4 separate regions of the Homo sapiens genome follow, and all the other regions are reported to be linked to region 1. The links are microRNA targets in miRTarBase. Many come from high-throughput screens and were not tested one by one. Region 1 holds a microRNA gene; each other region holds the end of a gene's coding sequence.
The links. Region 1 holds the annotated microRNA hsa-miR-6862-5p (CGGGCAUGCUGGGAGAGACUUU, at 849-870, opposite strand). A microRNA usually pairs through its seed, bases 2 to 8, with sites in the 3' UTR of a target mRNA and lowers its output. Matches are read on the target gene's strand: a 7mer-m8 pairs with bases 2 to 8, a 7mer-A1 pairs with bases 2 to 7 and ends in A, and an 8mer does both.

Region 2: miRTarBase lists SYNDIG1L as a target of hsa-miR-6862-5p. Seed matches in the 3' UTR shown: 8mer at 890-897 and 7mer-m8 at 1,864-1,870.
Region 3: miRTarBase lists GRM1 as a target of hsa-miR-6862-5p. Seed matches in the 3' UTR shown: 7mer-A1 at 644-650.
Region 4: the mRNA of CLPTM1 is a reported target of hsa-miR-6862-5p. Seed matches in the 3' UTR shown: 7mer-A1 at 743-749.

The regions. Positions count from the first base shown.
Region 1 is chr16:28,390,177-28,393,182 of GRCh38, forward strand. MIR6862-1 (microRNA 6862-1) reads right to left here and starts at 875; the gene lies at 806-875. EIF3CL (eukaryotic translation initiation factor 3 subunit C like) reads right to left here. Exons shown (of 21, transcript NM_001317857.2): 9 at 1,804-1,966; 10 at 1,576-1,679; 11 at 664-805; 12 at 344-469; 13 at 115-208.
Region 2 is chr14:74,404,921-74,407,926 of GRCh38, reverse strand. It overlaps SYNDIG1L (synapse differentiation inducing 1 like), which reads left to right. Exons shown (of 4, transcript NM_001105579.2): 3 at 1-78; 4 at 234-2,028. The coding sequence ends at 392. Among named protein-coding and RNA genes, the nearest start is that of SYNDIG1L, 20 kb to the left of the region's middle. RefSeq lists an enhancer at 288-789.
Region 3 is chr6:146,434,512-146,437,517 of GRCh38, forward strand. It overlaps GRM1 (glutamate metabotropic receptor 1), which reads left to right. Exons shown (of 8, transcript NM_001278064.2): 8 at 1-3,006. The coding sequence ends at 285. Among named protein-coding and RNA genes, the nearest start is that of RAB32, 110 kb to the right of the region's middle.
Region 4 is chr19:44,992,480-44,995,485 of GRCh38, forward strand. It overlaps CLPTM1 (CLPTM1 regulator of GABA type A receptor forward trafficking), which reads left to right. Exons shown (of 14, transcript NM_001294.4): 14 at 132-862. The coding sequence ends at 418. Among named protein-coding and RNA genes, the nearest start is that of RELB, 7.5 kb to the right of the region's middle.

The sequences.
Region 1 (3,006 bases):
TGAAAGGCTGGCTTTTCAAGCACTCTGACTTAGTATAATCCTCACAAAGCTCTAAACCTAGTAATATTCCCCACAATTTTCCTCTCAGCAAAGCCCACGCTTGCTCAGGCTCACCTTGGGAGTGAGGGTCAGTATTTTGCATTATTTTGGTAAATTCTTCATCCATTCGTTCCACCAGAGTTAGGATGCAGCCACGGACACGCAGTGGCTGAAAAGGAAGGCGAAGGAGGAGTCAACAAATTAGCCCAGATCTCAGTCTCAAACCTCAACCCTCGGGTCCCACTGAGCCTTCCCAAAGCATAAAATACACACCTCCAGTTATCCTGCCAACTCCTCCCTTTACCTGGTCAGCGTTGTGCAGGTTCTCACTCTCTTCCAGAATATTCTCTCCAACAAAAATGTTGGGATTTGCAAACAGGATATCCATCAGCTCATTGATGCAGTCCAGGCACTTCCCCCACATCTCTGGCTGCCAAGATTTCAGGCCACATCAGAGTCAGAGGTGTGAAGGTAGAGTAAGCGGATGCCTCCCCCTTCAGCAGGAATCATGGGGCCTTCCACCACCAAGACTGCCTCCATAGCCCCTGAGTCTTAAGATGCTAGGTACCTTCTTCCCCCAACCCACCAGCGATGCCCTGAGATGAGCCTCTTCACTGCTCTCACCTTCATGTAGGTTGCCAGGTTGGGGTTGTAGTCATAGAGAGAGGCGATGATATTGAACTTGATCTTGACAATGACGCCCTCTCCCAGGTTGTTTTCCGCTGCAATCTGAACCAGCAGTTGCAGCAGCTCAATCTGGGCAGCACTAGAGGGCCAGAGAGCTGGGTGAGGCTTTGGAGACAAATCACAAAGTCTCTCCCAGCATGCCCGCTTCGGATAACGCGCCCTCCTCATCACCCATATCCCTGCTTCTCCTTTATAAATTCCAAACAGAAGCAACAATAATCCCAACCATCCTGGAATGCTGTGAAATGCTTCACACCTACCACCATCCTCTGTTACCTAATAACTAAAGAAGGTAAACACTCTTTTACTTTTTTAATCTTAAAAAAAAAAAAAGCCAGGTGTGGTAGCTCATGCCTGTAATCCCAGCACTTTGGGAGGCTGAGGCAGGCGGATCACTTGAAGTCAGGAGTTCGAGACATGGTGAAACCCCATCTCTACTAAAAGTACAAAATCAGCCAGGGATGGTGGCGGGTTCCTGTAATCCCAGCTACTCAGGAGGCTGAGGCAGGAGAATCGGTTGAACCCAGAAGGCAAAAAGGTTGCAGTGAGCCGAGATCGCGCCAGTGCACTCCAGCCTGGGCAACAACGAGACTCCATCTCAAACAAAAAAAAAAAAAAAAAAAAAAAGAGGAGAACATTATCTCATTGTATAGATGGGAAAACAGATCCAAAACGTTAAGTGATTGGTTTTAAGTCACAAGAAGAGTAAACAGCAGATAATGGACGGGGATGCCCCAAGCATACAATTCCCTCTACTACAGCCACACACAGACCCTCCCAACAATCCCTTCCCCCAACCTCCACCCTCTGCCACCCTGCAATCCCACTGCCCAGGCCCACGAATCTTACCGATCAGTTCCCTTCTTGCCTCGTGCCTGTAGGATCTCATTCAGTTTCTTGATAACAACAGCATGGGTGATCTCAGTTCCCTTGGCAAACATTTTTGGCTTCTCCTGTATCAGTACATATCCCGTCATGTACATGCCAGCGGGAAACTGTCCTTGCCTTTTCCCCACAAGGGGACCTTTATGTCCTCCCAAACTGTTCCCCAATTCATTTTACCTCTGAAACCCTCACCTTAACCAACGGCACTCCGCCCCGGACCCTTTCCCACTCCCCGCCTTCATTGTCCTCCTCCTCCTCCTCATCCAGGCGCTTGGATTTCCTGTCGTGCTTCTTCTTAGCTTTGTCCTCCCGTTTCTTCTCGGCTGCCTTCTTGTCCTCATCTGTGGTGGGTGCCCTGCCGACAGACATGGGAGAAGATGACAGATCAGCCCCTCCCCACCTCTAAGGCTTCTTCCTCCCATCAACTTCCTCTTTTCCTCCAGCAGCTCCTGGGTCCAAGTTATGCTCTACAACAATGACCTAGAGGGCACAGTGAACCATAACCATAGCCATCTCTAACAAGACAGAGTACTAACCAGGCCACTGTAGACATATTAATAGAAACAACCTGTCAGCTAAGCATGGTAGATCACTTGATGTCAGGAATCCAAGACCAGCCTGGGCAACATGGTGGAACCCCATCTCTACTAAAAGTACAAAAATTAGCCAGGCATGGTGGTGCACGCCTGTAGTCCCAGCTACTTAGGAGGCTGAGGCACGAGAATCACTTGAACTTGGGAGGCAGAGAAGGCTGCAGTGAGCCACAATCATGCCACTGCACTTAAGCCGGGGTGACAGAGCAAGACTCAGTCTCCAAAAAAACAAAACAAAACAAAACAAAAAAAAACCAACCTGTCATTTTGCTCCAAAGCTAACATCTACAGTTTTCCAAAGAATCCACAAACAACTTATTTTCTTTGATACCAGCTGCTTTCTCCAGACTGACCAACTAATCAATGAATCAGTTCCCCCAAATATATAAAAACATTTTTTTCTTTTTTACTATTCCTAAACTGTTTTATCGCTTTCTCTCCTCTCTTGACAACCGATTAATCTAAATTCTGAATTTTAAAAAAATGTTCATTACAAAAAAGGTCCCCACAAAACAGAAAAAGATCACCAGCTACCTTAAAATGGTCTTAGGCTACTGGATGTTGCCTGAAACCATCTCCAGACTTGAGTATGTATTTATGTAACAAAATACAAACCAAATGGCAAAGACAAATTACTTCAAACTTTGCACAGATACTGAAGAATAAATCTTTCCAGAAAGACTCAACATTTTTGAAAACTCATATGTAATAACCATAATCTACCATTTGAACATTTATAAATAAATTTCATTTTCACTGCTTAAAAGGTTTGAATATGTTTTTGGAATAGTCTATAAGTTTA
Region 2 (3,006 bases), not on the chromosome of region 1:
CACCTGGGACTTACTCTCTTCTCCATGCTCTGCTGCTTCTGGCCACTGGGCATTGCTGCCTTCTACTTCTCCCAGGGGGTAAGAGCACCTGGGGCCCAGGTCCCTTCTCTGGCCCGTCACTCTACTGGAGGGCTTGGCATCCCGTCTGCAGGATGGGGTCAGGGGCCTGGCAGGCTGGGCTGTTTGGCTGGGTGTGGGGACACTCCTGTTCATCAGCATGTCTCTCTCCCTAGACCAGCAAGGCCATCTCCAAAGGGGACTTCCGCCTGGCCAGCACCACCTCCCGCCGGGCCCTCTTCCTAGCCACACTCGCCATCGCCGTGGGGGCCGGTCTCTACGTGGCTGTGGTGGTGGCTCTGGCAGCTTACATGTCCCAGAACGGTCATGGCTAGTAGCCAGTAGGGCCTGCATCCTGACTCCCCTGCCCACCTGAGGAAGCAGTGGGGCTTGGAGTTGCAGACCCTATGGAAAGGCCCGGCCCCTGAAGATGATCCCGTGAGAGTGGCTTGCTGAGGGGGAGACCCCCATTCCACAGCCTGCAGAGCTCAGCCTTCACTTCTGCTTGCCCGCTGCTCCCAGCCCCAGAGCAGGGCCCGGGGCGCCACTCTCTAACCCAGGCTACAGACGGGAAACAGAAGGCAGGGCTGCCCACCAGGCCATCCCAGCAGGGCCTAGCTCCATCCATTCTGCCCATTCCCTAGAGGATCTCCTGCCCTACAGCCAGCCCACCACCTACCCTGCCAACCTCCCCACAGAGAAAGAGCAGGAGGTTACAGGGAGAAAAGGGGGTGCCCAGAGCACAAGGGGACCCGTCCCAATCCTTTCAGCCCACAGGGATCTTCACCTGGGGACAGCCTGAGCTTCCCCCAACTCCACTGTCTGGCCCCATCATGCCCAGACCTCAGCAGGCCAAGAAGGAAATACGTGGAGGCAAGGGGGCCTCTTGCTGTCTCTGATTCTAGAGGGTGCTTATCTCTGCATGGGCTTGTGAGGCACTGTAGATTCTAGATAGGGAAGAGGAGCCTCGGTATGTAAACTCTGAACCAAGGGCAGGTTCTTGGAGCTTCTTCATGCGGGTGCAAAAGGCAGTTGCAATGACAGAGAATAGAGGGTCCTGAAATATTGCTGTACTACATGACTCTTCCTACTCTCCCCCCACTCCCCGCCCCTATCATCCTTTTCTGGGCTTTGCCTGGGGGTCCGTGAGCTGGTGCCATCACAAGTAGACTAGACCCAGAGAGTGCCCTCAGCTCACCAGCCACTGAGCGCACGGCCCTAGGTCCAGCCCTACAGAAAACGCAGCAAGGAGAGACCCTAGGGAGTAGTGAGTATAGATGAGGGAAGGGACTCAGGGAAGGAATGGCCTGCTGAGTAGTCAGCGGTGCTTAGGAAGGCTTCCTGGAGGAGGTATCCCTTGAGCAAGTCCTAGGATGAATAGAATTCATCTAAGGGATTTGGTCACATAACTCTTTGTATTTGTAGGCAGGGATGTGGCAGGAACCTTCCATGGGAAGCTTCCAGGCTGTTTGGATTCTGCCTGGAACATCTGGGCTGGAGCCAAACTACAGCCATTCCTAAGGGTTCTGCCAACTCAAGGAGGAACGTCACACCTGTCTCTCAAAGACCAATGATGTTTTCCCATCTCTGAATGCTAGGGGGTCAGTGGTGGGTACCTGGTTACCCCTGGGGCATCTTCACTGATATCTCTGCTCAGTGCCAGTCTCAACACCCTCAGCCACTAGGGCACATCCAGAATTTTAGAGACATCTCCAGGTAGGCGGGGGGCAGCACCAATGTGGGCAGGCCTGTCTGGACTCAAGCTACAGGCCCCTGCTGTGCATGATGTGGGAACCTGGTCATTCCCATGCCCCATCCAGAGCCCAGGGCTGTGGCTCCACCACTGAGCATCCCTTGTCCCACTGTCCTCCCCTGCCTCGGGCACTGCCCAGCCCTCCACTCCTGCATCACAGCAGTTTTAAGGTCCCATTATTGTACTGATTTATCCTTGTAATAAATGTTTCTGTAACACCTGGTGCCCTCTAGGTATCTTGCTGTGCTACCTGCCCCGCCTTTGCCTGAATCCCATTCTTCTCCAAGACTGACCTGTTGCTATGTCTGCTGCTCTGACCCCTGGCAGCCTGCGGAGAGGACAAGCCCACGTATGGGCCTTAGGAGGAGTGGTGGCCAGAGTGTCTGCACCATCCCAGGATTCCTCTGCTTGGAGTAGTCTGGCTGTAGAGTGATGGCCTGCATTTGGCTTGCTCTAGGCAAGCCAAAGCAAGATCCGTGCCTGGAAAAAAAGCCCTTCTAGGCTCAAGAGCCTTGGAGGACAGGGAGGAAGGGATGTGAGCCAAGGTGACTGAGGCTCCATGGAGCTGCCTGGAGCTACCAAGGGTGGATACAGGGTGTGAGGGGGCCAAGGAGTCCACGCCCCTGCTGCCTGCTCCTTCACCATCTCTTCCATCCCAGGAGCCGCTCCTGGACCATGTGGAGAGGAAGGCATCTCTGCCTGCCTCAGGCCCCAGCTCAGCACCAAATCTCCAATATCCTCTCAGACCTGAGCCCCCAGGAGCCTGCCTGGGCCAGCACAGGGACTGGCCTGGCCTCTAGGTCACTTGGATGGAGGGCCCTGGGGAGGCAGGTTATGCACATCCCATATCCACGTGTGCACCTACTTGTAAGACACAGCTGTGCACGTATGCACACACACATGCTGCATGGGTTGCGAACCCCAGAAACAGAGATTAGCCTGTGAGATGGATATGAGGGGCTGCTGTTGGGATAACGTTTGTAAAAGCATGGAGAGGGAGGCAGATCTGGGCAGAGGGAGAGGTCAGGCTGCAATGCAGTCCTGAATGACAGGCTGGGCCAACCCACAGGGGAGCCAGAGTTGACCCAAATTGGGGTGAAGAGCCAGGTCTTTCCACTCCCTCATTGACCAGTCATTAGATGTGGGCCACCCAGAAAGAGGGTGTGACCTCAGGCAAGGCAGTGGTCTTCAGCTGA
Region 3 (3,006 bases), not on the chromosome of region 1:
GAGAGGTTTAAGCTCCTCCAGGAGTACGTGTATGAGCACGAGCGGGAAGGGAACACGGAAGAAGACGAACTGGAAGAGGAGGAGGAGGACCTGCAGGCGGCCAGCAAACTGACCCCGGATGATTCGCCTGCGCTGACGCCTCCGTCGCCTTTCCGCGACTCGGTGGCCTCGGGCAGCTCGGTGCCCAGCTCCCCCGTGTCCGAGTCGGTGCTCTGCACCCCTCCCAACGTATCCTACGCCTCTGTCATTCTGCGGGACTACAAGCAAAGCTCTTCCACCCTGTAAGGGGGAAGGGTCCACATAGAAAAGCAAGACAAGCCAGAGATCTCCCACACCTCCAGAGATGTGCAAACAGCTGGGAGGAAAAGCCTGGGAGTGGGGGGCCTCGTCGGGAGGACAGGAGACCGCTGCTGCTGCTGCCGCTACTGCTGCTGCTGCCTTAAGTAGGAAGAGAGGGAAGGACACCAAGCAAAAAATGTTCCAGGCCAGGATTCGGATTCTTGAATTACTCGAAGCCTTCTCTGGGAAGAAAGGGAATTCTGACAAAGCACAATTCCATATGGTATGTAACTTTTATCACAAATCAAATAGTGACATCACAAACATAATGTCCTCTTTTGCACAATTGTGCATAGATATATATATGCCCACACACACTGGGCCATGCTTGCCAAGGAACAGCCCACGTGGACATGCCAGTCGGATCATGAGTTCACCTGATGGCATTCGGAGTGAGCTGGTGGAGCCAGACAGAGCAGGTGCGGGGAAGGGAAGGGCCCAGGCCAGACCCATCCCAAACGGATGATGGGATGATGGGACAGCAGCTCCTTGCTCAGAAGCCCTTCTCCCCGCTGGGCTGACAGACTCCTCATCTTCAGGAGACTCAGGAATGGAGCGGCACAGGGGTCTCTCTTCATCCACTGCAACCCATCCAGTGCCAGCTTTGAGATTGCACTTGAAGAAAGGTGCATGGACCCCCTGCTGCTCTGCAGATTCCCTTTATTTAGGAAAACAGGAATAAGAGCAAAATTATCACCAAAAAGTGCTTCATCAGGCGTGCTACAGGAGGAAGGAGCTAGAAATAGAACAATCCATCAGCATGAGACTTTGAAAAAAAAACACATGATCAGCTTCTCATGTTCCATATTCACTTATTGGCGATTTGGGGAAAAGGCCGGAACAAGAGATTGTTACGAGAGTGGCAGAAACCCTTTTGTAGATTGACTTGTGTTTGTGCCAAGCGGGCTTTCCATTGACCTTCAGTTAAAGAACAAACCATGTGACAAAATTGTTACCTTCCACTTACTGTAGCAAATAATACCTACAAGTTGAACTTCTAAGATGCGTATATGTACAATTTGGTGCCATTATTTCTCCTACGTATTAGAGAAACAAATCCATCTTTGAATCTAATGGTGTACTCATAGCAACTATTACTGGTTTAAATGACAAATAATTCTATCCTATTGTCACTGAAGTCCTTGTAACTAGCGAGTGAATGTGTTCCTGTGTCCTTGTATATGTGCGATCGTAAAATTTGTGCAATGTAATGTCAAATTGACTGGTCAATGTCAACCTAGTAGTCAATCTAACTGCAATTAGAAATTGTCTTTTGAATATACTATATATATTTTTTATGTTCCAATAATGTTTTGTACATCATTGTCATCAATATCTACAGAAGCTCTTTGACGGTTTGAATACTATGGCTCAAGGTTTTCATATGCAGCTCGGATGGACATTTTTCTTCTAAGATGGAACTTATTTTTCAGATATTTTCTGATGTGGAGATATGTTATTAATGAAGTGGTTTGAAAATTTGTTATATTAAAAGTGCACAAAAACTGAGAGTGAAAATAAAAGGTACATTTTATAAGCTTGCACACATTATTAACACATAAGATTGAACAAAGCATTTAGATTATTCCAGGTTATATCATTTTTTTAAAGATTTTCCACAGCTACTTGAGTGTCTAACATACAGTAACATCTAACTCAGCTAATAATTTGTAAAATCTTTATCAATCACATTTTGCCTTCTTTTAATTTTTATGTTCATGGACTTTTATTCCTGTGTCTTGGCTGTCATAACTTTTTATTTCTGCTATTTGCTGTTGTGTAATATCCATGGACATGTAATCCACTTACTCCATCTTTACAATCCCTTTTTACCACCAATAAAAGGATTTTTCTTGCTGTTTTGATTTCTTCTATTATTTGTGGAATGAATTATACCCCCCTTAAATATCTTTGTTTATGCCTTATGTTCAGTCATATTTTAATATGCTTCCTTCATATTGAAGCTGCTGATTTCTCAGCCAAAAATCATCTTAGAATCTTTAAATATCCATTGCATCATTTGTTCAGAATTTAACATCCATTCCAATGTTGGAGGCTTGTATTACTTATATTTCATCATATTCTATTGCCAAGTTTAGTCAGTTCCACACCAAGAATGAACTGCATTTCCTTTAAAAATTATTTTAAAACACCTTTATTGAAAAGATCTCATGACTGAGATGTGGACTTTGGTTCCATGTTTTCATTGTAAGAAAGCAGAGAGCGGAAAATCAATGGCTCCAGTGATTAATAGATGGGTTTTTAGTAATTGACAAATTCATGAGGGAAAGCATATGATCTCTTTATTAGTGAATCATGCTTATTTTTTACTCTTAATGCCACTAATATACATCCCTAATATCACAGGGCTTGTGCATTCAGATTTTTAAAAAATTAGGATAGATAAGGAAACAACTTATATTCAAGTGTAAGATGATATCAGGTTGGTCTAAGACTTTTGGTGAACACGTTCATTCAACTGTGATCACTTTATTACTCTGAATGCCTACTATTATCCTGATTATGGGGTCTCCTGAATAAATAGAGTATTAGTCCTTATGTCATCATTGTTCAAAATTGGAGATGTACACATACATACCCTATACCAAGAGGGCCGAAACTCTTCACCTTGATGTATGTTCTGATACAAGTTGTTCAGCTTCTTGT
Region 4 (3,006 bases), not on the chromosome of region 1:
GCCACGGCCCCAGATGGGGTGCTCAGTCTGAGGGGGCTCGGCCCCGCCCTTGCATCACGCCCTCTCCACCCAGGCCCACCTGGCTGTGGACGGGCCAGCCCGACCTCACACTGCCTCCCACCCCTCTCCAGATGTGGTTTTCTTCATCTACCTCTACCAACGGTGGATCTACCGCGTCGACCCCACCCGAGTCAACGAGTTTGGCATGAGTGGAGAAGACCCCACAGCTGCCGCCCCCGTGGCCGAGGTTCCCACAGCAGCAGGGGCCCTCACGCCCACACCTGCACCCACCACGACCACCGCCACCAGGGAGGAGGCCTCCACGTCCCTGCCCACCAAGCCCACCCAGGGGGCCAGCTCTGCCAGCGAGCCCCAGGAAGCCCCTCCAAAGCCAGCAGAGGACAAGAAAAAGGATTAGTCGAGACTGGTCCTCACCTGCTCCGGCTCCTGGCGACCACTACCCCTGCGTCCCGGCCCCCTCGCCTCCCCTCCCTGTCGCCCTTTCCCTGGACAGATCAGGCCGGGGCGGTGGGAGGCCCGCCTCAGGTCAGGGCCCAGCGTGTGATGTAGGGGCCGGGGCAGGCCAGGGTTTGTTTGTGGAGGCGCTGTCTGTCCCTCTGTCCCTCTGTGTTTCCAGCCATCTCGCCCTGCCAGCCCAGCACCACTGGGAATCATGGTGAAGCTGATGCAGCGTTGCCGAGGGGGTGGGTTGGGCGGGGGTGGGGCCGGGCCCCCCTACGGGATGCCCACGGCCGTTCATCATCTTGTCCCTCGTCCCCCTACCACACTCCCCCTCCTAGACCGCCGCCCTTTAACACAGTCTGGATTTAATAAATTCATATGGGTGTTTAACTTAAACTCAGCACTGCCCCTCCTCCTCGTGCCTTCCTTCCTCTGTTGCCTTGGACAACAGCTTCCAGCAGGGATGAGGTGGCTTTCCTGGGTCTGGGAGAGTGACCTGACACGGTACGGGACCTGTAAAGGTGGGGATTGTGACCTTGTGTCAAGAACCATACCTGGCCGGGCGCAGTGGCTCACACCTATAATCCCAACACTTTGGGAGGCTGAAGTGGATGGATCACTTGAGGTCAGGAGTTTGGGACCAGTCTGGCCAACATAGTGAAACCCTGTCTCTACTAAAAATACCAAAATTAATTGGGAATGCTGGCAGGCACCTGTAATCACAGATACTCGAGAGGCTGAGGCAGGAGAATCATTTGAACTCGGGAGGCGGAGGCTGCAGTGAGCCCAGATCACACACTGCACTCCAGCCTGGACAACACAGCAAGATTCCATCTCAAAAAAAAAAAAAAAAGCCATACCCGCCAGGCCAGGCCTCTTCCTCACTTCTCGCCCTCCCACCAGCCCTCTGAGATTTCATTAACTGGCCTCATTTCAGATTGCTGGGGAAGCTGCTTGCAGGGAGCTCGCTGCCCTATACCCTTTCCTGCCAGCTGCCCCTGCTGGGTGCAGGCTGGAGCCTGCCATGTGCCCGCTGAATGTCTCCTAACCCGACACCACCAGGCAGGGCCAAGTACAGCTTTCAGCCGGGTCGCCATGAGCACCTGCCACCCTGAGGCCTCAGCACAGCAGTTGGGGCACGCTAAATGTGTGCCATTGGCTTTTTGCGCTGACACCCACTCCCAATTTTGGGGAGCATGGGGGTGAAGGCTCAGCCTGCCTGAGTGGCACCTGGTTGGCTGGCTGTAGCACTCTGTGAGTGTTGGGGTGTCATATCACATCCCCGGGGCTGCCTGTGCTGACAACAGAGGTGGCATGAGTTGGATTTCCCATCCCAGCCCCTGGTGCTGGGACTCTTCGCCCACTGGATAGGTGAGCTGAGCGAGGCCTCTGTGTTCTGAGGGCTGGGGACCCTACATTCCCAGGTTTACTGTTTTGGGGGGTGGTCTCAGCAACACTTCTGGGATAGGGGGCCCAACGCTGAGGACCACACCAGGTTCCTTCAGGCTCCAGCTGCCACCCCATATTGCAGAGCCAGTCAGGGGATCCATGAGGCCCCAGGGAGACGATGGCACCCTCGGAGCCCCATACCACAGGTCCACAGGCCATGGCAGTCTCCCATCCCTCAGGGCAGCCATGGGTCTCCATTACCCGCCCCCCAACTCTATACCATTCCATGGATCCCCGGTGCCCTTGGAGGAACCCCAGCCTCTGCACCATGGCCTGACTGACAGGCTCCTAGGAACCCCGGAGGTACAGGGCTCTGCAGCCCCTTGAGACTGGTGGGCTCTCCAGCCACCTGGACTTCCTGGCCTCGTCACCCCTGGTTCTTCCTCCTCTCACAGCTCCACGCCCAAGCCTTTGACAAGGCCCATCAGCTACCCCCACAACTCCCTGGGGGTCTCACCTCTTCATTGGGACCACCTGCTCCACCTGCTCCATGCCCCTCCTTACCCTGTGGTGTTCTTGCTCAGTGTTCTGTCTGGTCCCCTGTCCCGGTCCTGCCCTCCCCACATCCCATTCACACTCTAGCTAGCAGCTAGAGGAAACTCTTTTTTTTCTTTGAGACAGAATCTTGCTCTGTTGCCCAGGCTGTAGTGTAGTGGTAGGATCTCAGCTCACTGCAACCTCTGCCTCCTGGGTTCAAGTGATTCTCCTGTCTCAGCCTCCTGAGTAGCTAGGATTACAGACATGCACCACCACGCTTGGCTAATTTTTTGTATTTTTAATAGAGACGGGATTTCGCCATGTTGGCCAGGCTGGTCTCGACCTCAAGCAATCTGCCCACCTCAGCCTCCCAAAGTGCTGGGATTACAGACATGAACCACCCTGCCCGGCCCAGCTAGAGGAAACTTTATAGTTTATTCTACTAAAGCACAAACCTGACCCTGCCCAGCCCTTGCTCAGAACCTACTGTGGGTGCACAGTGACCTCAGGAGAAAGCCCAGGCTCCTTACTGGGGACTGAGACCTTGGTGATGGGGACACTTATTAACCCCTGCATCCAGCCTGGTCTTCCCCCTACCTGGATCCTGCCCCCAGGCAC